Linked DNA regions of Homo sapiens. The protein of the gene in region 1 purifies or fractionates together with the protein of each later gene. This does not show direct contact. Each region holds a gene or a part of one and is shown in the gene's direction. Other genes may lie near its edges. The genes, in order: INSRR, AXL, RHBDF2, VRK2, SLC27A4, CDKAL1 and CYP51A1.

Region 1 (2,555 bases):
TCGGGGGTACAGAGGGTGCCAGGCAGATGAGGGCGGCCTGAAAAGTAGAGAGACTCCCTTAAGCTAGGCATCAGGAGACCCACAGCCCTGGTCCTGACAGCCTGTGAGACCCTTGGCAAGTCACCCCCACCCTGTATCTTAGTCTCTTGTCCAAGGGCAGAGGGGTTTGGATGGGATGAGTTCTGAGGTCCATTGAGCCCCTACTTTCCAGGGTTCTTGGTGACTCTGGAGGATGAGAAGATTGGGAGAGGTATCCCAGGGGCAGGAGCTAGTGCGTGGCTCTTATGCCCCACACCTCCTCCACCCTCACCCTCACTTTCCAGACTTCGGGATGACTCGGGACGTGTATGAGACAGACTATTACCGCAAGGGTGGGAAGGGGCTGCTGCCCGTGCGCTGGATGGCCCCCGAGTCCCTCAAAGATGGGATCTTCACCACCCACTCGGATGTCTGGTGGGGCCGAGCTGGAGCACAGGGCTCCAGGGATGTGGAGGCGGGATCTGGGGAGGGGCCTGGAACACCCCCATCCCTTGGAATGCACTGAGTAGCACGAAGGGTGCTGGGCTCAGGAGCTCCTGCATGCCCCCAGGTCCTTTGGCGTGGTACTCTGGGAGATTGTGACCCTGGCAGAACAACCCTACCAGGGCCTGTCCAATGAGCAGGTGCTGAAGTTCGTCATGGATGGCGGGGTCCTGGAGGAGCTGGAGGGCTGTCCCCTTCAGCTGTGAGTCACCTCCCCTGCCCCTTCCTCATTGTTGATCTACCTACAACCCTCCCCCACCCGGCCCCATGATTCTGGCTCACCTCCTCTGATGCTTTGACATCCACTGACCCTCAGCTATGAGCGCCACCCCCCTATCCCAAACCCCCAAGACTCCCATTTAATCCCTTCTCACCCTCCCAGGCATAATGGCCCACGATCCCCACTCCCACCAACTGACCCTCAGTGCAGGAGGCTGAGAGCGTGGCAGGGGCTCCCGGATGCCTCTGACCCTGCTCCCCACACCCACCAGGCAGGAGCTGATGAGCCGCTGCTGGCAGCCGAACCCACGCCTGCGCCCATCTTTCACACACATTCTGGACAGCATACAGGAGGAGCTGCGGCCCTCCTTCCGCCTCCTCTCCTTCTACTACAGCCCGGAATGCCGGGGGGCCCGGGGCTCCCTGCCTACCACCGATGCAGAGCCTGACTCCTCACCCACTCCAAGAGACTGCAGCCCTCAAAATGGGGGTCCAGGGCACTGAGGGGCACCTCATTCCCTGGCTGGCCTCCCATGGGGAGACAGGAAGGGACCCGACCTCTGTGGCTGAGACGCCTGAATGTTCACCCCCACCCCAACTCAGGGCAAGGGATGGCCGAGGGTGGGGCAGAGAACAGGAGCAGGGAAGGCTGTGGGGGTGGGCAGAGGGGTCTCACCATAGGAGTTTCTCAGACTCTGAGTCCCTCGGGGGAGAGCAAGCAGGGTCAAAGCCAGAGGAGTAGAGATCAGGTCAGGGAGAGATGTCCTGCCCTCAGAGGTAGGGACCCCACTCAGACTAGGAAGAGGGGGCCCGCCCACCCTAGAGGCCCTGCCCCTCAGTTTGGGGTCTCCTCTGGACAGGTAGGGCCAGCGACATGTTTGAAATCAGATGAGCAATCAGAAGCAGGCCTGGGGCGCTCTCCATGCATGTATGGGAGGGGGGTGGGGCTCCACATGACTGCCTTGCTTGCCACTGGTTTCACCTCCTCCCCTCAGCTCCACTGACCAGGTGGCATGGGGAGAACCCAGGGGCCTGGGGAGTGGTTCCCAGCCTGCCCGCCCTCACCTCCTCCTCTCCTTTTGCCCTGCCCAGGGCTCCCCAAGCTTGGTGCTCCTTCCTCCTTTTCTCCAGGGGCATCCCTTGGAGTACAGTCACCCTTTCTTCAGTCCCTCCCCTCAATGATTAGCCCTGGATGCTTAAGGCTTTCAGAGCCTCATCTTCCTCCCTCCCCTCACCCTCACCCAGCCCCGCCCCCACCCCTGCCTCTCATGGGAAGACTGGAGAAGGCACAATAAATGCTGAGGCCTGTTTGTACCCTGGTCCCAGGCAGCCCATTATCTCTCCATCTACATGGTGTTAACACTGGATGAACTTCCTTTCTCCCTCCTCTGGGACTCGAGGTGGTGACCCTAAGGCAGAGACACGGGATAAATACACTGCTGTCAAACACCACCTCCATGAGGACCCGAGCAGCCAGGGTTGCCATGGCAGTGAGGCAGGACAATCTTGCTATTATCTCCTGCTCAGGACCAGAAGTGGTTGAGCCCGGCAGGGAACCTTTGTGTCTAGCCTCCAAGCAGAACCAACCAGTCCCGGACACCTCATCTTAATTTCACCCCTTGTTATGTTCGTTATATCGGTCCACTGGGTAGGTATTTTCTGGAGTGTCATAGGACAGACTTTAAGTGGGCAGACATGGGGCAAGGGAGAGGCCCTGATGACATCACCTGTTCATGCCAGATGCCCCCACCCAAGCCAGGGAACACACAGCAGAGCAGGGTCTGTGTGTCTGGCACCCTGTGGTTATCCTGGGA
Region 2 (3,500 bases), on another chromosome or scaffold:
CAGGAGCCATTTCAGGGTTACACAGCACAGGAAGTCCAGGGCTAAGTTCTTCACACACAGGGAAGGAGAAGCATAGGGCATTCAGATTGGGGCTGGTGGTGAATAGAGAATGATCCTTTCTGAATTACAGGGCTTAAAAGCTTGGGCTATGAAGTCATTACCCACTCATTCGTTCATTATGGAGCACCTCCTGTGTACCAGGTTATTTTGTTTGTTTTGCTCTGTTTTGTTTTGTTTTGAGGAGGAGTCTCACTCTGCTGTCCAGGCTGGAGTGCAGTGGCATGACCTCAGCTAACTACTACCTCTGCCTCCCAGGTTCAAGCGATTCTTCTGCCTCAGCCTCCTGAGTAACTGGGACTACAGGTGTGCGCCACCACGCCCAGCTAATTTTTGTGTTTTTAGTAGAGACGGGGTTTCACCATGTTGGCCAGGATGGTCTCTATCTCTTGACCTCATGATCCACCTGCCTCGGCATCCCAAAGTGCTGGGATTACAGGTGTGAGCCACCACACCCAGCCTACGTTTTTTGTTTTTTGAGACAGAGTCTTGCTCGTTGCCCATGCTGGAGAGCAGTGGCAGGATCACAGCTCACTGTAGTCTCAACCTCTGAGGCTCAAGCGATCCTCCCCACTCAGCCTCCCACTGGTTATAGTCTTGGCCTGGGTCTGAATCTCAGCCGTGCAACCTTGGGCAAGTCATTTTGCCTCTGTGAGCCACAGTGTCCTGAACTGTTAAATGGGATGATACTTGTTTGGGTCCCCAGGGCAGGTAGGGAAGTGCTGGGAAGCAGCCTGGGCAGTTGTGAGCAGGTGGACCCTGGAGCCAGACTGCCCGGGTTTGAGATCTGCCTCTTCCACCTCCAAGCTGTGTGTTCCCTTAGGCAGACTCCTAACCTTTTTGTGCCTTGCTTTCTTCATCTTTAAAATAGAGATAGGCCAGGGACAGTGGCTCATGCCTGTAATCCCAGTGCTTTGGGAGGCCGAGGTGGGAGGATCACTTGAGGCTGGGAGTTTGAGACCAGCCTGGACAACATAGCAAGACTCCCTCTCAAAAAATTGGCTGGGCATGGTGGCTCACACTTGAAATCCTAGCACTTTGGGAGGCCAAGGCAGGCAGATCACTTGAGGTGGGGAGTTTGAGACCAGCCTGGCCAACATGGTGAAACCCCGTTTCTACTAAAAATACAAAAATTAGCTGGGCATGGTGGTGCATGCCTGTAATCCCAGCTACTCGGGAGGCTGAGGTACGAGAATCTCTTGAACTGGGGAGGCAGAGGTTGCAGTGAGCCAAGATTGCGCCATTGCACTCAAGCCTGGGGGACAAGGGCGAAACTCCATCTCAAAAAAAAAAAAAAAATTATCCGGGATGGTGGTGCGTGCCTGTGGTCCCAGCTACTCAGGAAGGCAAGCCTAGGAGTTCGAGCCTAACCTCCAGTGAGCTATGTTTGCTGTGATTGCATCCATCCTGGGTGACAGCGCAAGACCCTGTCTCAAAAAATAAAAATAAAAAACAAAAACAAAAACAAAACAAAACAAAACAAAAAACCAATAAAATGGGAATGATAATAGTAGCACCTGAGAAGATTAAATGAGTTAATATATATAAAGTTGGCCAAGCGCAGTGGCTGACGCCTGTAATCCTAGCACTTTGGGAGGCCGAGGCGGGCAGATCGTGAGGTCAGGAGATCGAAACCATCCTGGCTAACAAGGTGAAACCCCGTCTCTACTAAAAATACAAAAAATTAGCCGGGTGTGGTGGCACACGCCTGTAGTCCCAGCTACTCAGGAGGCTGAGGCAGGAGAATTGCTTGAACCCGAGAGGCGGAGGTTGCAGTGACCCGAGATCAAACCACTGCACTCCAGCCTGGACAACAGAGTGAGACTCCATCTAAAAAAAAAAAAAAAAAGAAAATATATATTTTATATATATATATATATTATATACACACACACAGACACACACACATACACATATCACATATAAAGTGCTGAGTATGGTGCCTGGTACTTACTAATCATGTTTGATGAAGATGAGTGATGATGATGATGATGATGATGATGGAGTGGAGGTGGAGGGAGAGTCCTCCCTCTCCTCCCCTCCTCCTCACGACCTTTCTCTCTCCCTCAAGTTGCCATCTGCACGAGGTCAGAGCTGGAGGATTTCCTGAGTGAAGCGGTCTGCATGAAGGAATTTGACCATCCCAACGTCATGAGGCTCATCGGTGAGAGAGGGGCAGATTCAAGGGGTCTACAAGCCCCATGGGGGCCATAGCAGAGGGAAGAGCCCTGCTTCTGGCCCTGGGAAGATCAAACTTCCAGGCTTCCTGCTCCCCGCTCCTTCAGGGTCAGCAGGCTTCCCCCTCCTAGTCTCCCTCAGCTTGGAATGTGACCTCTGATCATTCCCAGAAATAGCTGAGGTCCCCAGGAGGGCTCCGGAAACGTCCCTGGGAACTCTGCTGGAAACAGCTTCTCTGCAGCTTGGTCCTTGCCACTGCCACTACCCCCAAACAATATGGTGGCCAGATTGGATGGGTAGTGAGAAGGAGAGGCTGGAGGCTGGCTGGTGGGGGGCTTGGCTTCCCCTTCTGCCCAGCAGGAGTGACAGGGCTACCTGGGGGGCTCAGGTGTCTGTTTCCAGGGTTCTGAACGAGAGAGCTTCCCAGCACCTGTGGTCATCTTACCTTTCATGAAACATGGAGACCTACACAGCTTCCTCCTCTATTCCCGGCTCGGGGACCAGCCAGTGGTAAGGGGCGTTTAATCATTCAGTCTACAAATATTAACTGAGCATCTATCAGGTACCCAGTGCTGCTCAGACCCTGGGAAGACCACGGTGACCAGGAGCTTGCTCTCCTGGAGCATTTCTTCCAGCAGGGGAGGGGCGGATGATAAACAAGCTAATAAATACCTAAGCGAGATGATTTAAATGTTTAAGTGCTAGGAAGGAAATACAGTAGGATGGAAGATAAGGAGGCCAGGCAGTGAATTTGGGTGGACGTGGAAGATCTTGCCGAGGAGGTGACCGTGAAGGAGTTGGGGCTGGGGAGATGTCTGGAGATCTGGGCAGGAAGCGACCCCAACAGAGCGCACAGCATAGGCAAAGGCTCGGAGGTGGGAATGATCATCGTTTGTCTGAAGACCAGACAGGAGTCTGGTGGGAGTGTCAGTCAAGGGCAAGAACATAGGCAATCAAGTCCAAGAGGAAGGCTGGAGCAAGTTTATAGGACCTTGCAGGCCATGGAGAGGGGTTGGGTTGAATTGTCAGGGCCATGGGAAACCACTGCGGGCAGAGCTAGGCTTGCACAGAGGGATGGAGGGAGGAGGGATCGCATCAAGGACTCTGTTGACCTCTCCTCCCACCTGCCTTGGCTCCCCAGTACCTGCCCACTCAGATGCTAGTGAAGTTCATGGCAGACATCGCCAGTGGCATGGAGTATCTGAGTACCAAGAGATTCATACACCGGGACCTGGCGGCCAGGAACTGCATGTGAGTGCCTTTCA
Region 3 (3,500 bases), on another chromosome or scaffold:
CTCCACACTCTCCTCAGATCTCTGTGCCTCGCACTCTGGAGCAGGCCTCGGCGCTGCCCCATCTGCCCCAGGGGATTTCCAGAGTGAGCTCAGGCATCTGCACCGGCTGTGGAAGCGCTGGCTGTCGGAAGCGGCTCCCAGTTTCCTATCCAGCTGAGCCAGGCTGGGGGAGGAGTGGCGGGGACGTCTGCGCCTGCCCAAGTACAGGCTGACCTCGGCGGTGGTGGTGGCTAGGCAGGGACAGCTCTCAGGGCACGGGCGGCTTCACAGGGAAACCAAGCCTGCCCGGAACGTCGTTTTGCCTCCCAGGAGACCTAGGATGGGTGTAAGGAAAAACACATCTTCCGGGAAGTACAAAGCGCCACCGTGTCCACGGCCCCTCCTTCAGCAAATGTATCCGGGCGCCCAGCTGGGAGTTGTTTGTGGTCCAAAAGCTACTGGAAGGCAGTTCCAGCCCCAGTGCCCGGCTCCTGCAGGAAAGTGGTTTCAGCCAAGTGGGCAGTGCAGGAGGTGGGCCAGAGACACTGTTTGGAGTGTGAGGGGAACCTTGTGACCAGCAGAAAAGGATGGAGGAGGATTCCAAACTTCAGGAGCTGGGCCAAGGTCCAGGGGCTGCTGGGCACAGTCGTCCATGTGTGTGCTCAGTAGGATGAGTTCACTTAATTAGTCTGTGCCTCAGTTTCCCCAGCTGCACAGTGGGCTCACTAACAGTAATCTACCTGGAGGGTTGTGTGAGGTGAGGACTCCCGTGGTAAAGGTGTGCAGCCTGCAGTGCAGTGCCCGGCCATGGCAGGAGCAGTGCGGGGAGCCATCGTGATAATGGTGTTAGGGTGGCTTCAGGTAGGGGCGTGGCTGCCGGTCCATGGCACAGACTTGGGAGATGGCCGAGGCCCTGCCTCGTGGGCTGTCAAGGACTAGATGGGAACACGCATATGGAGCAGTGGCACTGTTGTTATTGTTATTCTGTAGGAGTGGCTGTGTCTGGGGTAGGGGGACCTCAGTGCCTTGCTGGCCAAGGGAAGTGAGGGTGGGTTTCCATCTGGGCATGAACTGCTGACCTCTGCCCAGGGGTTTTCCTGGCCTGCCAGTGTGTGTGTGTCACTGACAGTGGGGTGGGGGGCAGCTCATGGAGTTGGTGCCCCTCAGCTGTGCTTTCCCTGGCGTAGGTTCCTGGGGCTGGGAGCAGGGTAAAGCTGCCTCAAGTCTTGGTTTTCTCCTCTGCCTCCCCCGTGTGGCCGCCAACCCTGTGCCAGCAGGTGGTGCAGGGATGGCTTCCTGCCCCGGTCTCTGGCAAGAAACCCTTTTCCCTCTCCCAGTGGGTCTCCCCAGGTTGTCAGCTCCATTTAGTCATAAGAAGATCTGGGGCCAGGCGCGGTGGCTCACGCCTGTAATCCCAGCACTTTGGGAGGCTGAAGCAGGCAGTCACAAGGTCAGGAGATCGGGACCATCCTGGCTAATACGGTGAAACCCCGTCTCTACTAAAAATACAAAAAAATTAGCCAGGTGTGGTGGCATGCACCTGTAGTCCCAGCTACTCAGGAGGCTGAGGCAGGAGAATCGCTTGAACCCAGAAGGCAGAGCTTACAGTGAGCCGAGATCACCCTACTGCACTCCAGCCTGGGCAGCAGAGCGAGACTCCGTCTCAAAAAATAAAAGAAAAAAAAAAGAGATCTGGAAGAGGAGGGTTGAGGATCTGCTGTGGGGTTTGGAGTGGGAACAGGACTTTGAACCCTGGCCTAAGCCCCTTTTGACCTTGCCAGCCCGTGAGGATGATGACAGCCGCCTCTCACCCTTAGCCTCAACTAAATGAGATCATGTCTGTAAAAGTCCTTTGCAAGCTGAGCAGTGCTGCCCAGGCAGTTAGGTGCTGTCCCTTCTTCATGAATCAAAGGCCTTTGCATGCAGGACTCACTCCAGCACCCCAAACACTCAGAGTCCTCACCCGTTCTTTTTCTCCTGCCCCTCACCAGTTCCAGGGTGGCAAGAGGCTGCAGAGTGTGGAGGTTAAGAGCGCGGGACCCTGGCTGGGGTTGTAGCCCCACCACCTCCCTAACTGTGGGACCTTGGACAGGTGACTTCATCTCTCTGAGCCTCAGTTTCCCCACCTGTCGAATAGAGATCTGTCCCCTGTGGGGCTCGTGGCTCAGATAGAGACTAAGTGAGCGATGGTGGCAGAGCTCAGCCAGGAATAAAAGAAACTTCCAACTGGGCGTTGGGTGTGTGCCAGGCACTGTACATTCATATCTGCTGTCATCTTCCCTGGCTCCCTCCGTGGTGGGGCATCAACCCATCTCACAGCAGAGGAGGCAGGCTCTGCAGCACCCACTTGCCCAAAGTCTCCCAGCAGGTAGGTGGCCCAGGCAGGTTTGAGTCCCATCTCTGGCCCCTTATTCCTCCTCATTCCTCAGCAAGAGAGCTCCACGCTGCCCCGAAGCAAGGTGTGGGCCATAAGCACGTGGCTTTGCAGGCCTGCTTGGGACAAGCAACCTGGTGTCCCCGTGTCCTGAAACCCTGGCAGTCACTGGGGCTAGGGCCAGCCTCTTCCCTGGGAAGCAGGGAGCCCCAGGGCAACGTTCTGGGAAATCAGGTTTATTAGTTCCTTAATGACCGTTTACAAGCTCAGAAGTGTCTGCCTGGCATTTTCCCTCCCTGCTGAGGGGCTCCATGCAGCCGGAGGCAGAACTGGGCCTCCAGAAGCGCTCTGAGTGTGTCGAGGTGAGGGCCCAGGGATGCCGTCGGCTCCCTGGGCTCTGCATGCTCACACCCAGCCAGTCCAGGCCTATTTCTGGCTGGGTGGCACTGGGCAAGGTGCTTACCTCTCTGTACAATAGGTGAGACCTTGTACCTCAGCTGAGCTGTTCCTGGGGTGAGCCCTCGTTCATGGTGACAAAGTCACATAGATCTTAGACCCTGGGAGGATACTAGCATCTTATGCATACACAAACTGAGGCTCAGAGATGTTAAGTGGCTTGCCCAAGATCGCACAGTGGTTAGAGATGGGCCTGTGACCCTGTCTTCTGCCATCGGGACAGATTTTCACTGTCTGGAGGCAGGTGGAAACCGGGTGGGCTCCTACTTTGTAAGCACAGGACAGTGCCCTGTCTGTGTACATGGGACAGTCACAAACGGAAATGGCCTGGTCACACCTTAGTGTCAAGGAGCCTCCAGCAGGAGTGAAACGGACCTCTCACACAGACCCCAGGCTGCATCTCATCCTGCCCCAACCGCTGGGCTTGTGCTGGACCACCACTGCTTCCAAGGACCCGTGAAAACCCGGCTGCCGGGATGCAGAGAGGCAGACTTTCATGAACGTTTGCAGCAAAGGGCAGTTCCCACCGAGCCTGTGTTGCTGTGGCACTGTGTGGTGCACACCCCACCCCGGAAACCCTCCAGTGTCCTGGTGTCTGACCCCAAATGGACAGGGCCTTTTGGCCCCCAGGGGCCACTTCTGACTCCTCCCCTTCACAACGATGCTGAGGGAGCAGGAGAACTGGGGCCCG
Region 4 (3,500 bases), on another chromosome or scaffold:
CTGCAGAAAAAGGAACTGTTCAGTTTAGGGTAAGAAAGCCCAGATGCCCTGAATTGTACAAGACAAATGCTTGTGGGCAGTGTATATTATGTCATACTCTATTGTTAAAGATTTGAGTCAGATGAGTAATCTAGATGGGAGACAAGCCCAGTTTTTGTTTCTTAGCACAAACCATTTTATTGAATCCATACTATTATTTATAAAATGCAGATTTCTGTTTCTAAAGCAAAAAGTGTTGAAACTTTAATATTACATGAAGGTCTCTTAAATTAGGAGGTTGTGCTTAGGAAGAACACAACCATGAAAATGAAGGAACTGATTTACAAAAGTTTATTACCGAAACATTTTATGAAATAAAACAGCCAGAAGTTTGCAGCATACATGTCCAACTAAGCATAATAATAATAGTTTCAAAAGTTTCTATCTCTTGATAGTAATGATACTTAATACTTCACTGGCTTAAAAAGCAGATGATTAAAAAAATCATAATTTCATACTAAAGGCATTTTGCTTTATAGTTCTGGCAATATGCTAGTAAATTTTAAAATGTACTTAATAAATCCAGATCTTGAAAGACTAACATTTAAACCAGTATTACATCACAATATCTACGCTTCAGGTTTGTAATAATAAATTTATAATGGAAATGGCTCTTTTTATTTTCTCCCCCTCCTACCTCACTGGTACCTCATTTTTCCAAACCCCAGTCCCATGAAGGCTTTGCAGCACAGCTGCTATCAGTTGGTGGAGTGCCAGGAGTTTTCCATTGTCTTGTAACAGTGATTTGTTCCCAGCACATTCAACTCTCTTCCTCATTTTGGATATTCTGGTTAATGGAATTGTAATATGTACCAAACTTGGCTTACCAATCTTCACAGGACCATAAAACAAAAATATTTATATTAAAATAGTAGTGAATGTAATTTAATTTTTTAATCATCCCTTTAGAAATTGGATACCCCCGAGCCCTTGTGAAGGGGCTGCATGAAGCATCAGTTATAAATATGGTGATAAAATAGCAGCACTTGCTAGTTAACAGAGATCTGGTTGACCGAATGCTAGATAACAGAATTTGATAAAAATAGATGAAAAAAACAGGTTGCATAATTGCTACAGTGTCAAGGAAGAAAAGCCCAGAACCAAGAGTTTACATTTTAACCACGTTAGCTTCATGTTCCCAGGAAATAGCTCTGTACTATATGGTGAAAGTGGTCACTCTTAACTTTAATAGGGGGAAAGCGATGATGACTATTCCTTTTGAAATTTTTCTCTATAGGGAGTGAAACCCAGTGCCTCTGCAGTTTTCCTTTCTTTTGAGTGGAGGTAGGCCTAGAGGGGAAGTGAAGGATTAGGAAGTCACTCCTGCCAACGCATGAAGTTTCCCAGGTTTTCCCACCATGGATATAAGCAACTAAGTGAGAAAGTAAGAAGTACTTGAGTTTGAGTCAGTAATATATTTTTGAAAGGGAAAGGCATATCTAAACATCTCTGTGAACAAATGAAAACATGCCAGTTTTTAAATAGTATTTGGTATTATCACCACTTCTATTCCAATTTTAGGTTGAACCTCAACATGAAACAGAAATGCAAGCTACAAATATTTTAATGCAGTGATGTTTGTAACTGTTGGTTACTAATTCTGTTTGTATTTAAAAGTTGGTAGTTCCTAACCTTTTTGGGGAAAGGGGGTTTACTATGTAGTTCTAGGGGAACATTTCTTTACACTAGAGAAAAAATAAAAGATGGCAACTCCTCCTCCCACTGCTCTAAAATCAAAAACACGAGGCTGTGTACCAGGCTAGCTAGGTATGGAGGACATGAGGGAGGTTTCATACATTCTAAATTCAATCTTAGCTAACAACATGGAATTCAAGGTCCTTTCTAAATATACGGTTATAATCCCAAAATCAAAGCCTTAATTAAAATTTGCAGTTTTTTTCCTTAGAAATAAAGAGGTTTATAATAAGTAACACTTTAACTGAATTTTTAGAAGTTCAGCATAAAGTGTGAAGTATGGTCAGTTGTATTATTTATGTAGTCCTTAATAGTTGCACCTCATAAATCAAAATCACTATAATTATTACAATATACTTCCTCTCATAAGATCAGTGAATTATAAGCGTATCAACAAAAATATGTTAAAAACATTACTAGTTTGTCTCATCAATTCTGTAGGTCACTATATTTCAGTCATTTTTGAATATCATTTAAAAAGTTATTTTCATTGAATTGTTCATTTTTAGTTTCTTCAGGAGATGTAAATGTGTAAAAGACAAAGATAACAAAGATTTTGAGATTACTGGAGTCTTGACAATTCTTGCCAATTGTGAATGACATGTAAAAAATTTAATAATTCACAGGTGAAATAGCCCAATTTTTGGTATGTGCTCATAGTTTAGCATATGATGAAAAGCCAAACTATCAAGCCCTCAAGAAAATTTTGAACCCTCATGGAATACCTTTAGGACCACTGGACTTTTCCACAAAAGGACAGAGTATAAATGTCCATACTCCAAACAGTCAAAAAGTAAGTAACATAATCCCTGCTATCCTATGATTACCTTCTATGATACTTTTCTATCGAATGAAATTGTTTTAGGTCTCAAAATGAGTCTGACAGCTTTCTTCTTCCTTATATTTAACTCCCATTTTGCCTAACTCAGCACCAAGAAAGTTTGTTCCAAGTTCTTTTGACCTGTTGTCTCACAGAGAAAAATAGGATCTGTGGCCTACTATGTACTATGAAAGAAAGCAGTCACTACTGTCATAGAGATGTGACTAGGGTAAAGGCTAATCTGATGTTACTCATGAGAAAGCCATCATTTGCTTCTTTTCTCCAGGTTTTCTTTAGATATTGCCCTGTGTTTTTGCCTACCAATTTGGCCATAATTTGGTGATAACAGTCTTCGATTTAACCAGGTTATTTGTATGTGCTGATATTTCAATCCATGGAAACAGTTCTTTACAGAAAATAAAAGAGTTTATGCCAGAGATCTAGGTTAAAAAAAATCATTTTTTAAAAGTTACACCTCTTCTTTTAGTCTGCCATCTTCCCAAAGACCAACACCAACTTAAAAAAAAAATTAAGATTTCGAGCATTTTTAAGCGGGTGGTGGAAATCTTAGACTGCCGTTATTAGCAAGAATAGTGGACAGGCAACTCAGCATCCATGTCTTCCTTGACCACTATCCGTATGCACAAATAGAGTGTGGAGGGCATTTTTTTCCTGATGCATGTACAGTAAGATAGGGTCAGGATGCTATTCATTTTTAATATTTCTTATGAACTTTGGATCATCACACGTGTTCATGAGCCAAGAATGCGGGATGCAAACTAATGTGACTGATAGGCTGCTAGATGAATGGTGAGTCAAGTATCAGTGCACAGATGGTTCTGATTTGCTGAATTTTGTAGTTGCTGCAACTGAAGACATAAAATATCCTTCTAGTCATAAATTAGCTCTTTGGAAGCAAAACCTTGGCACCAGAGCTTTACAACCT
Region 5 (3,500 bases), on another chromosome or scaffold:
AGCACTAGCAACATGGCTGATGCTAGGTGGCCCCTCAGTACAATGGTAATCATCCTTGTGACTAATTAGGCCGTATCTAGCTCATCTGTAAAATGGGAACAAAATTAATTCCCCACTTTCCTCACAGAGCCTGCATTTTATTTGCTGCCACATTGGGCACCTGCAAAGTACTGAGGTTGCTGCTTTCCAAGAGCAGCTCTAATCTCTATAAAGACCGAGTGAGGTAGGGATCTTGGTTTTATGGATGATGAGCCTGGAGTTCAGAGGGGTTTGTGAGGAGCTCACCCAAGATCACACAGTTAGTAAGTGGTAGAACTGGGGTTTGATCTTCAGCTTGATCACAGCACTCTGTTTTTTCTCCCCACACTGTTGTGGTTGTGGGATAATGAATAGGGAAGTCATTAGGATGCTGAAAGGGGGCCTGGCATGGTGGCTCACGCCTGTAATCCCAGCACTTTTGGAGGCCAAGGAGGGCAGGTCACCTGAGCTCGAGAGTTAAAGACTAGACTGGCCAACATGGTGAAACCCTGTTTTTACTAAAAATACAAAAATTAGCCAGGTGTGGTGGCACACGCCTGTAATCTTGGCTACTCAGGAGGCTGAGGCACAAGAATCACTTGAACCAAGTGAGCCGAGATCATGCCACTGCACTCCAGCCTGGGCGACAGAGTGAAACTCTGTCTTAAAAAAAAAAAAAAAAAGATGCTGAAAGGGGGCCAGGCACAGTGGCTCATGCCTGTAATCCCAGCACTTTGGGAGGCCAAGGCAGGAGAATCTCTTGAGCCCAGGAGTTCAAGACCTGCCTGGACAATATAGTGAGACCCTGTCTGTCTCTATTTAAAAAAAGCAAAAGAAAAAAAAAAAAAAAGAAAGGAAAGAAAAAAATGGTGCTGAAAGGGGAGAGGGAAGAAGGCAGCCAGGGAAGAAGAGAGGGTTGGGCAAATCAAGAGGAAGCCAGGAAGGTGGGGCCAAGCCGACCAGCGCTGCTCCATGCCCGGGGGTGGGGGTTATGTGATGTCCGTGCAGTGCGCAGGGGAGCCTGAAAGCAGGTTCCCGCTCTCGGAAGGGGATGGAGGGCCACTGGCCTCTGACCCGCACTCCTCCCTTCTATCTGGTGCACCACAGAGTAAGTAGTGCGGGATAGTGGGGGGGAGCCCAGACCTTGATGTGAGGTAGAGCTGGCATTGCACGCCAGGTCCAGCACATTCTAGCTGTGAGCAGGTCCTCTCATTCTCGGAGCGTCAATCTTCTCATCTGTAAGAGGGGCTGTCAATGGTCCCTCCTTCCCAGGGCTGTGAGACCAGGGAATGCAGGTAAAGCGGACCTACTCTGTGGTTAGCCCATGGCTAATAGAACCATTGCCGGTGCCCCTGTCAACACTGAAGGCCCAGTTGCTTCACTGCCTCTCCTCCTGCCCAGCCAGTATCCTCAGCAACATGGCCAGCCCTGCTGGGAGCAGAGGTCCCTGGGAACATGGGGTTTTCTGGCCTGCCTGCTGACTGCCCTGTCTCCCCACAGCCATCTGTGAGGTCCATGCCAGCCTGGACCCCTCGCTCAGCCTCTTCTGCTCTGGCTCCTGGGAGCCCGGTGCGGTGCCTCCAAGCACAGAACACCTGGACCCTCTGCTGAAAGATGCTCCCAAGCACCTTCCCAGTTGCCCTGACAAGGGCTTCACAGGTGGGCTCCATCCCCTCCCCATAGAGGGGCTCTCACACAGGCCCTGGACAGAGCACTGGCCTCAGTGCCAGAAGGAGGCTTTTCTGGAAACTTGCCATGTGCCTGGAACATGTCACGTCACCTCCCTTTTTCCATCTGGAAAATGGTGACAGTAAACCTGGGCCACTCCAGGGTTACTGTGAAGGTGACATGAGCTGATGTGTATCAGTGCCAGATACAGGGCTGAGAACACAGGAGCTCACAAAGTCCAGTGTGATTTGTTGAACAAGCCTTCATTGATGCCTAATGGGCAGAATCCTGTGGACTCCGGGAACCTGCCTGGTCTGGGCTTTGGTTGGGGTTGGGTGGGAGGGTGGGTGAGGAGCAAGACCCTTTGTATATTCATCAAGTGCCTCTTCAGTGCAGGACACTTCAGGATCTCCAGCTGTGATCCTCTCCCAGCACTGTGCTGCCTCCCTGACCCCACCTCCAGGCAGCCTTCCTGAGCCTCTCACCCCTCTTCTTTTATACTGTAGCCTACCTGGTTCTTCTGCTCTTCTCATTCTCTTTCCTGTGAAGCCACATTGCCTGGTGGCTCAGAGCTTGGGCTGTCGAGTCAGATCCGAGTTTATATCCTGGTTCTACTGCTTCCTTTGTGTGAACCCTGACACCTGCCCTGCCCTTGGAGCCTCAGTTCCCACAGCCATAAAACTGGGGACAGTAGCAGAACCTACTCTATGGGGTATCTTTGAGGGTTGAAAAAAATACAGTGGGGCCAGTCCTGAAGCTAGGGTGTGGCAGGAGGGGCTCAGTAACTGGTCATTGTCATCAGCACTGTTTAACTTCTCTCTTGTATGTGAATCTGGTCTCTTGGGTGCATTTGTCAGCTGCTTGAGGGCAGGGACTCTGGCTGGTTGCTCTGGTGCCCTCATAGTGCCTAGGGCTGGCAAACAGCAGGCAGGCAGAGAGCATGAGGTGTCTCGGCAGGCATTCTAAACACGTGGAGTCTGCCTGTGGAGTTCCTGACCTCCAGGGAACCTCAAGTCTGGTAGGGCCGAGCCTCACATAGAAACTCTAACGTGGCAATCCCTGTCGAGGGCTGCAGAGTGGGACAGATCAATGCTCAGCAGTGCGGAAGCTACCTCAACACCCCACTTCCTGCAGCTAATGCCTCCCTGTGCTCTATGACTTGGGGCAGGTGTCACCTTTATCGTGAAGCCCACCTGGCACCACCTCCCCTCCTGCAAGCTTGGGCCAAATGTGGCTACTGGGTTTCAACAGGTCCTGTGCCCTCCCTCGGCACTTGTTGCTTAGTATTGGAATTGCCTGTGTCCTCATCTGACTGTTCCACTGAGCTGTGACTGCCAAGAGGGCCAGGCCCGTGCCCATCTTACTCACTGATGTCTCTCTCCACCAGGGCCTAGCACAGAGCAAGGGCCCAGGAAATATTTGTTGGAATGGATGCCGGTGTTAGAGCTGAATGGTATCTGAGGTTATCAGAACAGGCTTCCTAGCAAGGGTGTGATGGGAACAGGTGTTGAAGGGTGCACACCTGCAGGTGTCCATTTGTGTGACCCTTTGCCCAGCCCTGAGCTGCCCCCGACAGCCACTCGCGTCTGTTTTCTTTAGATAAACTGTTCTACATCTACACATCCGGCACCACAGGGCTGCCCAAGGCCGCCATCGTGGTGCACAGCAGGTAAGGGGCAGGTGCCCAGGGTGGGGTAGGCACAGGCAGGGCTGGGGAGCCTCCTTCTGCCTTTCTAGGGCCCGCTCAGCCCTTGGCCCTGTGCCTTCCCAGGTATTACCGCATGGCTGCCCTGGTGTACTATGGATTCCGCATG
Region 6 (3,500 bases), on another chromosome or scaffold:
TTAGCTGGGCGTGGTGGCAGGTGCCTGTAATCCCAGCTACTCGGGAGGCTGAGGCAGGAGAATTGCTTGAACCCAGGAGGCACAGGTTGCAGTGAGCCGAGATCGTGCCATTGCACTCCAGCCTGGGCAGCAAGAGTGAAACTCTGTCTCATAATTACAAAAAAAAAAAAAAAAAGCCTCCCTAATAACTCACCTATGTAAGTAACCACTGCTCTAGGATATTGCATCCTCCTTCTTCCTATCATTTTGAGTATTTTCCTTTTCACTGACTCTATTTTTATTCCCTTTATCAAATTTGATTTCCTCTACCTTTGAGAAAAATTTTTAATGATCCTTTTGCTCCATTTAGCTATTACGCTGCTTTCCTTTTATTCTCAAACTTTCATTTCCATATGATTTAATTAAAAATTTCTGAAGGCTAAACAATTCCCTCTATCAGTCTATCAGTTTGTTCAAAGTAAAACCTTTAGCTTATTAATAGTGATGAGTGAGATTATTTAGGTACTTATGATATACAGCCAGGTTTATGCTACATAATGCTGATATGCAGCGTTATATTTATCTTTTTTGAGTGAATATCTCCAAATGAAATTGCTGGCTCGAAGGATATACATATGTTTGGTATAATTGTCAGGTTGCCCTCCAGAAGGGGTGTACCAGTTTTTCTGTGCTTTCAGCTAACAGAGTTTTTGTCAGCTTTGTATCAGTGAGGCAGCTGAAAAATAACTTATTGTTTCAATACTTGTTGTTAGTGTGGTTGAGCATTCTTTCCTCTTTTTTTTTTTTTCTTTTCTGGGTATTTGTATTTCTTAAGTGAACTGCCTGTTTTTCCTTTACGCATTGTTTTCTGGAATGTGGTTACTTATTAGTGTCACATTAGATTCTTGCATTGTTTGTACTTTGCCAGTGAGGCAAAGCCATAGTGGGAAGAGCATGGTATTGAGAGGATGCCAAGGTTCTGATTTCTAGCTCTATCAATGTACAAATCCTTTTGCTTCAGTGGACTCCAGCTCTGTAAGATAAGAAGCTTAGCAACTTCTGCTTCTCTAACTCTAATGATATGGGATGTCTATTGCAGTGGATTCCTTTCATTCCTCTTTTTCCTTTCTATTTCTCTTCAGTGGATCCATACACACTTGTATATGGGATGGCAAAATTGTGTAATTAAAAAATATGGCTTTTAATTAATGTTATTTAATTATTCATGATCTGTCAGTAGTTCTTCCGCATTCCAAAGGCACTACCTGGTCCTAGCCTCTCTCATTTAATTATTTCATAGAAGAGTGGTGATAGAAGAAATCCTAGGGGTTGGGCATTTACTTCAGCTTCCCACCCAGTGTAGAATTTCCTGCTGTGTCATAGAAAGACTAGCTAAATTCAACTTAAGCATTGTGTTCATTCATTTAGTCAGTAACTATTGTGTGCCTGCTATGTGTCAGGCATTGTTAGAGGTGTTGTAGAGACAGTACTGAAAAAGAGATGATGCCTTTGTGCTTAACAAGCTTACATTGTAATGAGGAAGATACAATTATATATGTGGTGTCAGGTAGGTAAGCACAATGAAGAAACATGAAACAAAAGCAGGGTTAGAAGCAGTGAAAGTGTGGGCATGCTTGGGCAGCGTGGTTATTTTAGATAAGGTAGTAGGAAAGGCCTCTCCGAGGAGATGTTGTTTGAGTGAAGAAGTGGGTGGGAAGACATACTTATCTGGGGGCTGATATTCTGGCAGAGGAATAGCAATTATGAAGGCTCCCGAGTCAGAAACTAATTTGGCATACTCAGAATATCTATATCCATATATTGCCCGACTGTGTAGTCTGCAGTAAAAGTATTTATTGAGAACCTGCAATGTGCTAGACATAGTTCTAGGCACCTGGGATAAAACAGTGAACACCTCACACGAAAACCTTTACCCTCACGAAGTATGTATTCTAGTAAGATAAACAGTTAAAAAATTATTAAAACATTTTAAGCAGATGATTAAATGCTACAGTTTAAAAAAAGGCAGGAAAGGGGCATAGGAAGAGGGTGTGTGGTGAGGTGGGGGTGTTGGTTGGAAAGTCCTCTCTTGTTACACTTGAGCAAAGTCCTTAAGGGCTTGAGTGAGTGAGCCATTCAGGTGTCTTAAGTAAGAGCATTCCAGGCAAGAATAAGACTGTGAAATGAATGCATATCTAGTGGGTACGAAATAACAAAGCCTGCATGACTGAGGGGAGCGTGGTAGGAAGTGGGGCCAGAGATGCAGCAGGAGGCTGATTATATATGTCATTGCAGATCTTTGTAGTGATTTTGGCTTTTTACTCTGATATGGAATACCACTGGAAGGGTTTGATTGAGAAGCTTGAGATGAACTTAGGTTTTAAAGGGATCCCTGACTTCTGTGCTGAAAATGTTCTTGTAGAGTTTAAGGATAGAAGCAAGGATATTAGGGATTGCAATAATCCAGACAAGAGGTGATGTTGGTTTGGACCAAGAGTGTAACAGTGGGTATGGTCACAAATAGATTCTGAATATATTTTGAAGGTACAGCCAACAGGATGTTGTTGATTGATTGGATTTAGGGTGACAGAAAGAGGGGAGTGCAGGATTTTTGGCCTGAGCAGTAGAAGATTGGGATTGTCTTTTTTTTTTTTTTGAGACAGAGTCTCACTCTGTTGGCCGGGCTGGAGTGCAGTGGTGAGATCTTGGCTCACTGCAACCTCTGCCTCCTGGGCTCAGGCAATTCTCCTGCCTCAGCCTCCCAAGTAGCTGGGGTTACAGGCGCTCGCCACTATGCCTGGCTAATTTTTTGTATTTTTAGTAGAGATGGGGTTTCACCATGTTGGACAGGCTGGTCTTGAACTCCTGACCTTGTGATTCACCCACCTCGGCCTCCCAAAGTGCTGGGATTACAAACATGAGCCACTGCGCCCAGCCAGGATTGCCATTAAATGAAATGGGAGAAGTTGTAAGAGGATCTGGTAAGGTAGGGAGAAGATCAGGAATTCTGTTTCGACTTTGACTTTTTTTTTTTTTGGGATGGTGCTTCGCCCTTTGTCGCCCAGGCTGGAGTGCAGTGGTGCAATCTCAGCTCACTGCAACCTCTGCCTCCTGGGTTCAAGCGGTTCTTCTGTTTCAGTCTCCCGAGTAGGTGGGATTGCAGGTGCCCACCACCATGCCTGGCTAATTTTTGTATTTTTAGTAGAGACGAGGTGTCACCATGTTGGCCAGGCTGACCTCCAACTCCTGACCTCAGGTGATCCATCCGCCTCAGCCTCCCAAAGTGTTGGGATTACAGGCGTGAGCCACCATGCCCAGCCCTGTTTTAACTTTTTAAGTTTGAAGGAATTATTAGACATTCAAGCAGTGGTGTGGAATAGGCAGTTGAACGTCTGAGTCTGAAGCTCGGGGGAAGAATGGGGCTGGTTATGTAAGCATAGACGTAGTTCATATTTCAAGGCCATGGGACTGGATGAGGTCACCTAGGGAGTGCCTGAAACTAGAGAAGAGTTCCTGTAACA
Region 7 (3,500 bases), on another chromosome or scaffold:
TAGCTATAACTTGAGGTTAATAGTATGTACCTCACAGGAAGATAAAAGTGAGTAATTCATGTAAAACACTTAACATGGTACCTGCTACATAGTGAACATACTATTTAAAGGTAAAGTTTAGGAGTTGAAGCTTGTTTTCTGAATCTGCTAGTATTTTCACCCCCTACAAAAAACTATTGTATTAGAAAGTGAAAAGTAGAACCAGATTCCATGGAAGAACCAGAGTGACTCTTCTGCTTTAAGACTTGATTTGGTATTAAAATTGGAATTTTATGTTAATTTAAAAGAGTATCCTACTTTCTGTTGAACTGGAAAATACTTCTAAAGGAATTTCTTGCTTGTTTTAGGCCTTTAGTTTGAACACAGGCAATGTGTTAAGAATCTGGGATATATATGTTAAATAAAGCACAGTTCTTGCCCTTAGGGACTATGGACATTTTTAACAATGTAAGATTTTCATGACTTCCAGTATGTTCCTGGTTCTGATTTTTTTGTCAATTATTTTAGAGTCATTAAAGTTGGTTAAATAAGATGCTTTATGCTCGGTCCTGGTTCTCAAAATGAATTTGATCCTAGAAGGTTATTTCTTTATTTAAGAAAATCATCTTTATCTTTTAATTACAGACGCAGGGACAGAGCTCATCGGGAAATCAAGGATATTTTCTATAAGGCAATCCAGAAACGCAGACAGTCTCAAGAAAAAATTGATGACATTCTCCAAACTTTACTAGATGCTACATACAAGTAAGAGCTATTCAGATAACATATTAAGCTGAAGCAGGAAATTACACATTAAAACACAGTTAAATAGTATTTCCAGTTAAAAAACAGTGATGCTGGCAAAATAAGTTGGTAGCTGTGATCTTTGGACTCTTTAAATTGTTGAGACATAAACTATTGGCATCCTGTGTCTTACTGTAATCCCAGTGACTGGGTATGGTAAAAGTTTGCTAATGAACTGTAATGGAGTCTTTTGTAATCAAAATCGTTTTGTGCTGGTCTGTCTCTTCCCTAAGAGAAAAAAAACTCTTGACTTGTGATAGTCAAATATAAGAGACCACTATACCTGAAAAATGTATTCATTATGACACTTTATTTAAAGGTTGAGGCATGAAATGTATCTGCCAAAATGTTAAATTTGTGTCTTTGGTTCATTCCTTAGGGATGGGCGTCCTTTGACTGATGATGAAGTAGCAGGGATGCTTATTGGATTACTCTTGGCAGGGCAGCATACATCCTCAACTACTAGTGCTTGGATGGGCTTCTTTTTGGCCAGAGACAAAACACTTCAAAAAAAATGTTATTTAGAACAGAAAACAGTCTGTGGAGAGAATCTGCCTCCTTTAACTTATGACCAGGTTTGTTGGATTTTTCAGTTTCATTGCTGCCTTATGACTTTGAGGATCTGTGGCTAATTTTTAAAAGGGACAATTTGAGATTTTCTATATACTATAGCTTAAATTGATCAGCTTCTCTATTTTTAGCAAATTCCCTATAACCTTACCTAAAATATCTTAATGTTATTGCTTCTTGCCATTAAGCTTTATCAGATATGTTTTGGGTTGATGGCTTAGAGATCCTTGGGGATGTTTCTTTGGTACTTACTTCCTCTGCTTCAAAGTCTGGCTTCTGTACATAGAGGATATTATGTGCATGTTGTGTGTCTTATGAAGTGTAGAAGCCTCTGAATTACTTAGAATTCTGTATGTCCAGAGTGGCCTGGGCATGAGCAGAGACTTCTAAAAGTAGTAGTAGTAGTAGTAATGAGGACAAGACATTTACAAATACTACATGCAACTTGCTGGGTGGAAAGGAAGAGAGGACAACTCACTGCACAACCTGACATTCCATCTTGGAAGCAAACCTTGGTGATGTCATCTTCCTGTTATCTTTTGTGCTTTTGGTCCTATATTAATATGGCACATTACACTGATTTTCAGATGTTAATTGTATTCCTGGGATAAATCCTACTTTGTCATGGTGCATAGTTCTTTCTATATGTTACTACATATAAACTTGCTGGTGTTTTGTTGAGGATTTTTGCATCTATATTCATAAAGGATATTGATCTCTAGTTTCACTGTGATGTCTTTGACTGGTTTTGATATCAGGATCATACTCATCTCATAGAATGTATTTGGAAGTATTCTTTTTTTCTTCTAATTTTTGGAAGAGTTTGTGGATGATTGGTGTTAATCCTTTTTTACATATTTGCAAAAATTCAGCAGTGAAATCATCTAGATCTGTGCTTTTCTTTCTGAGAAGACTTTACTTACTAATTCAATTTATTTGTTACAGGTTTATTCAGATATTCCATTTCTTCTTATGTCAGTTTCAGTAGTTTATATCTCTCTAGGAATTTGTCCATTTCATCTAGGTTACCTAATTTGTTGGCATACAATTGTTCATAGTATTCTCATAATCCTTTTTATTTCTGTAAGCTCAGTAGTGATGTCTCAACACTCATTCTTGTTTTTAGTAACTTAAAATAACAGCTTAACTGATATATTTACATAGCATAAATCCATCCATTTAAAATGTACACTTTGTGGTTTTTAGCATATTAAGAGTTGGGAAACCATCATCATAATTTAATTTTAGAACATTTACATCACTCCCAAAAGAGAGCTGGTACCCATTAGCAGTCATGCTTCATTCTCCCTGACTGCTGCCCCTGGCAACCATTAATCTCCTTTTGCCTCTGTGAGTTTGCCTATTCTGGATATTTCATGTAAATGGGATCATACAATTTGTAGTCTTTTGTGACTACCTTGTTTCACTTAGCATGTTATCAGGGTTCTTCCATGTTGTAGCATGTATCAGTACTTCAGTCTTTGTTATTACCAATAATATTCCATTATATGGATAGACCACATTTTGTTTATTTGTTCATCAGTTGATGGACATTTGAGTTGTTTCCACCTTTTAAACTATTATGAATAATGCCGCTCTAAACGTTTGTGTACTGATTTTATGTGGACATGTGTTTTCAATTTTGGGGGGTCATACCTAGGAGTAGAATTGCTGGGTTATAAGGTAACTTTGAAGAACTGCCAGACTGTTTTAAAAAGTGGCTGCACCACTTTCAAATCTCACTAAACAGTATATGTTGGTCCTGACTTCACCCCCTCACCAAACTTGTTACTTGATTTTTTTATTATAATAGGTGTGAAGTGATACTTTTTTTTTTTTTTTTGAGACAGAGTCTTGGTGTGATGCCCAGGCTCTAGTGCAATGGCGCGACCTTGGCTTACTGCAACCTCGGCTTCCCAGGTTCAAGCTATTCTCCTTCCTCAGCCTCCCAAGTAGCTGGGTACACACCACCACGCCTGGCTAATTTTTGTATTTTTGGTAGAGACAAGGTTGTACCATATTGGCCAGGCTGGTCTTGAACTCCTGACCTCAAGTCATCTGCCCGCCTTGGCCTCCCAAAGTGCTGGGATTACAGGTGTGAGCCACCATGCCCAGTTGGTATTTTGTTTTGATTTTGCATTTCCCTG

The links.
Region 2: the proteins of INSRR (region 1) and AXL purify together in Homo sapiens (affinity purification with mass spectrometry; one large-scale study listed by BioGRID and IntAct). This does not show direct contact.
Region 3: the proteins of INSRR (region 1) and RHBDF2 purify together in Homo sapiens (affinity purification with mass spectrometry; one large-scale study listed by BioGRID and IntAct). This does not show direct contact.
Region 4: the proteins of INSRR (region 1) and VRK2 purify together in Homo sapiens (affinity purification with mass spectrometry; one large-scale study listed by BioGRID and IntAct). This does not show direct contact.
Region 5: the proteins of INSRR (region 1) and SLC27A4 purify together in Homo sapiens (affinity purification with mass spectrometry; one large-scale study listed by BioGRID and IntAct). This does not show direct contact.
Region 6: the proteins of INSRR (region 1) and CDKAL1 purify together in Homo sapiens (affinity purification with mass spectrometry; one large-scale study listed by BioGRID and IntAct). This does not show direct contact.
Region 7: the proteins of INSRR (region 1) and CYP51A1 purify together in Homo sapiens (affinity purification with mass spectrometry; one large-scale study listed by BioGRID and IntAct). This does not show direct contact.

The regions. Positions count from the first base shown.
Region 1 is NC_000001.11:156,839,563-156,842,117, reverse strand, and holds the end of INSRR (insulin receptor-related protein precursor), read left to right. Parts: coding exon 1-6; coding exon of another isoform or gene 7-37; intron 38-323; coding exon 324-453; intron 454-589; coding exon 590-724; intron 725-1,013; coding exon 1,014-1,245; 3' UTR 1,246-2,055; downstream 2,056-2,555. UniProt on the Homo sapiens protein: Receptor with tyrosine-protein kinase activity. Functions as a pH sensing receptor which is activated by increased extracellular pH. Activates an intracellular signaling pathway that involves IRS1 and AKT1/PKB.
Region 2 is NC_000019.10:41,250,223-41,253,722, forward strand, and holds part of AXL (tyrosine-protein kinase receptor UFO isoform 1 precursor), read left to right. Parts: intron 1-2,128; coding exon 2,129-2,221; intron 2,222-2,623; coding exon 2,624-2,745; intron 2,746-3,376; coding exon 3,377-3,486; intron 3,487-3,500. UniProt on the Homo sapiens protein: Receptor tyrosine kinase that transduces signals from the extracellular matrix into the cytoplasm by binding growth factor GAS6 and which is thus regulating many physiological processes including cell survival, cell proliferation, migration and differentiation.
Region 3 is NC_000017.11:76,494,924-76,498,423, reverse strand, and holds part of RHBDF2 (inactive rhomboid protein 2), read left to right. Parts: intron 1-3,500. UniProt on the Homo sapiens protein: Regulates ADAM17 protease, a sheddase of the epidermal growth factor (EGF) receptor ligands and TNF, thereby plays a role in sleep, cell survival, proliferation, migration and inflammation. Does not exhibit any protease activity on its own.
Region 4 is NC_000002.12:58,137,306-58,140,805, forward strand, and holds part of VRK2 (serine/threonine-protein kinase VRK2), read left to right. Parts: intron 1-2,360; coding exon 2,361-2,527; intron 2,528-3,500. UniProt on the Homo sapiens protein: Serine/threonine kinase that regulates several signal transduction pathways.
Region 5 is NC_000009.12:128,347,027-128,350,526, forward strand, and holds part of SLC27A4 (long-chain fatty acid transport protein 4), read left to right. Parts: intron 1-1,518; coding exon 1,519-1,677; intron 1,678-3,285; coding exon 3,286-3,355; intron 3,356-3,457; coding exon 3,458-3,500. UniProt on the Homo sapiens protein: Mediates the levels of long-chain fatty acids (LCFA) in the cell by facilitating their transport across cell membranes. Appears to be the principal fatty acid transporter in small intestinal enterocytes.
Region 6 is NC_000006.12:20,537,457-20,540,956, forward strand, and holds part of CDKAL1 (threonylcarbamoyladenosine tRNA methylthiotransferase), read left to right. Parts: intron 1-3,500. UniProt on the Homo sapiens protein: Catalyzes the methylthiolation of N6-threonylcarbamoyladenosine (t(6)A), leading to the formation of 2-methylthio-N6-threonylcarbamoyladenosine (ms(2)t(6)A) at position 37 in tRNAs that read codons beginning with adenine.
Region 7 is NC_000007.14:92,120,978-92,124,477, reverse strand, and holds part of CYP51A1 (lanosterol 14-alpha demethylase), read left to right. Parts: intron 1-624; coding exon 625-744; intron 745-1,162; coding exon 1,163-1,358; intron 1,359-3,500. UniProt on the Homo sapiens protein: Sterol 14alpha-demethylase that plays a critical role in the cholesterol biosynthesis pathway, being cholesterol the major sterol component in mammalian membranes as well as a precursor for bile acid and steroid hormone synthesis.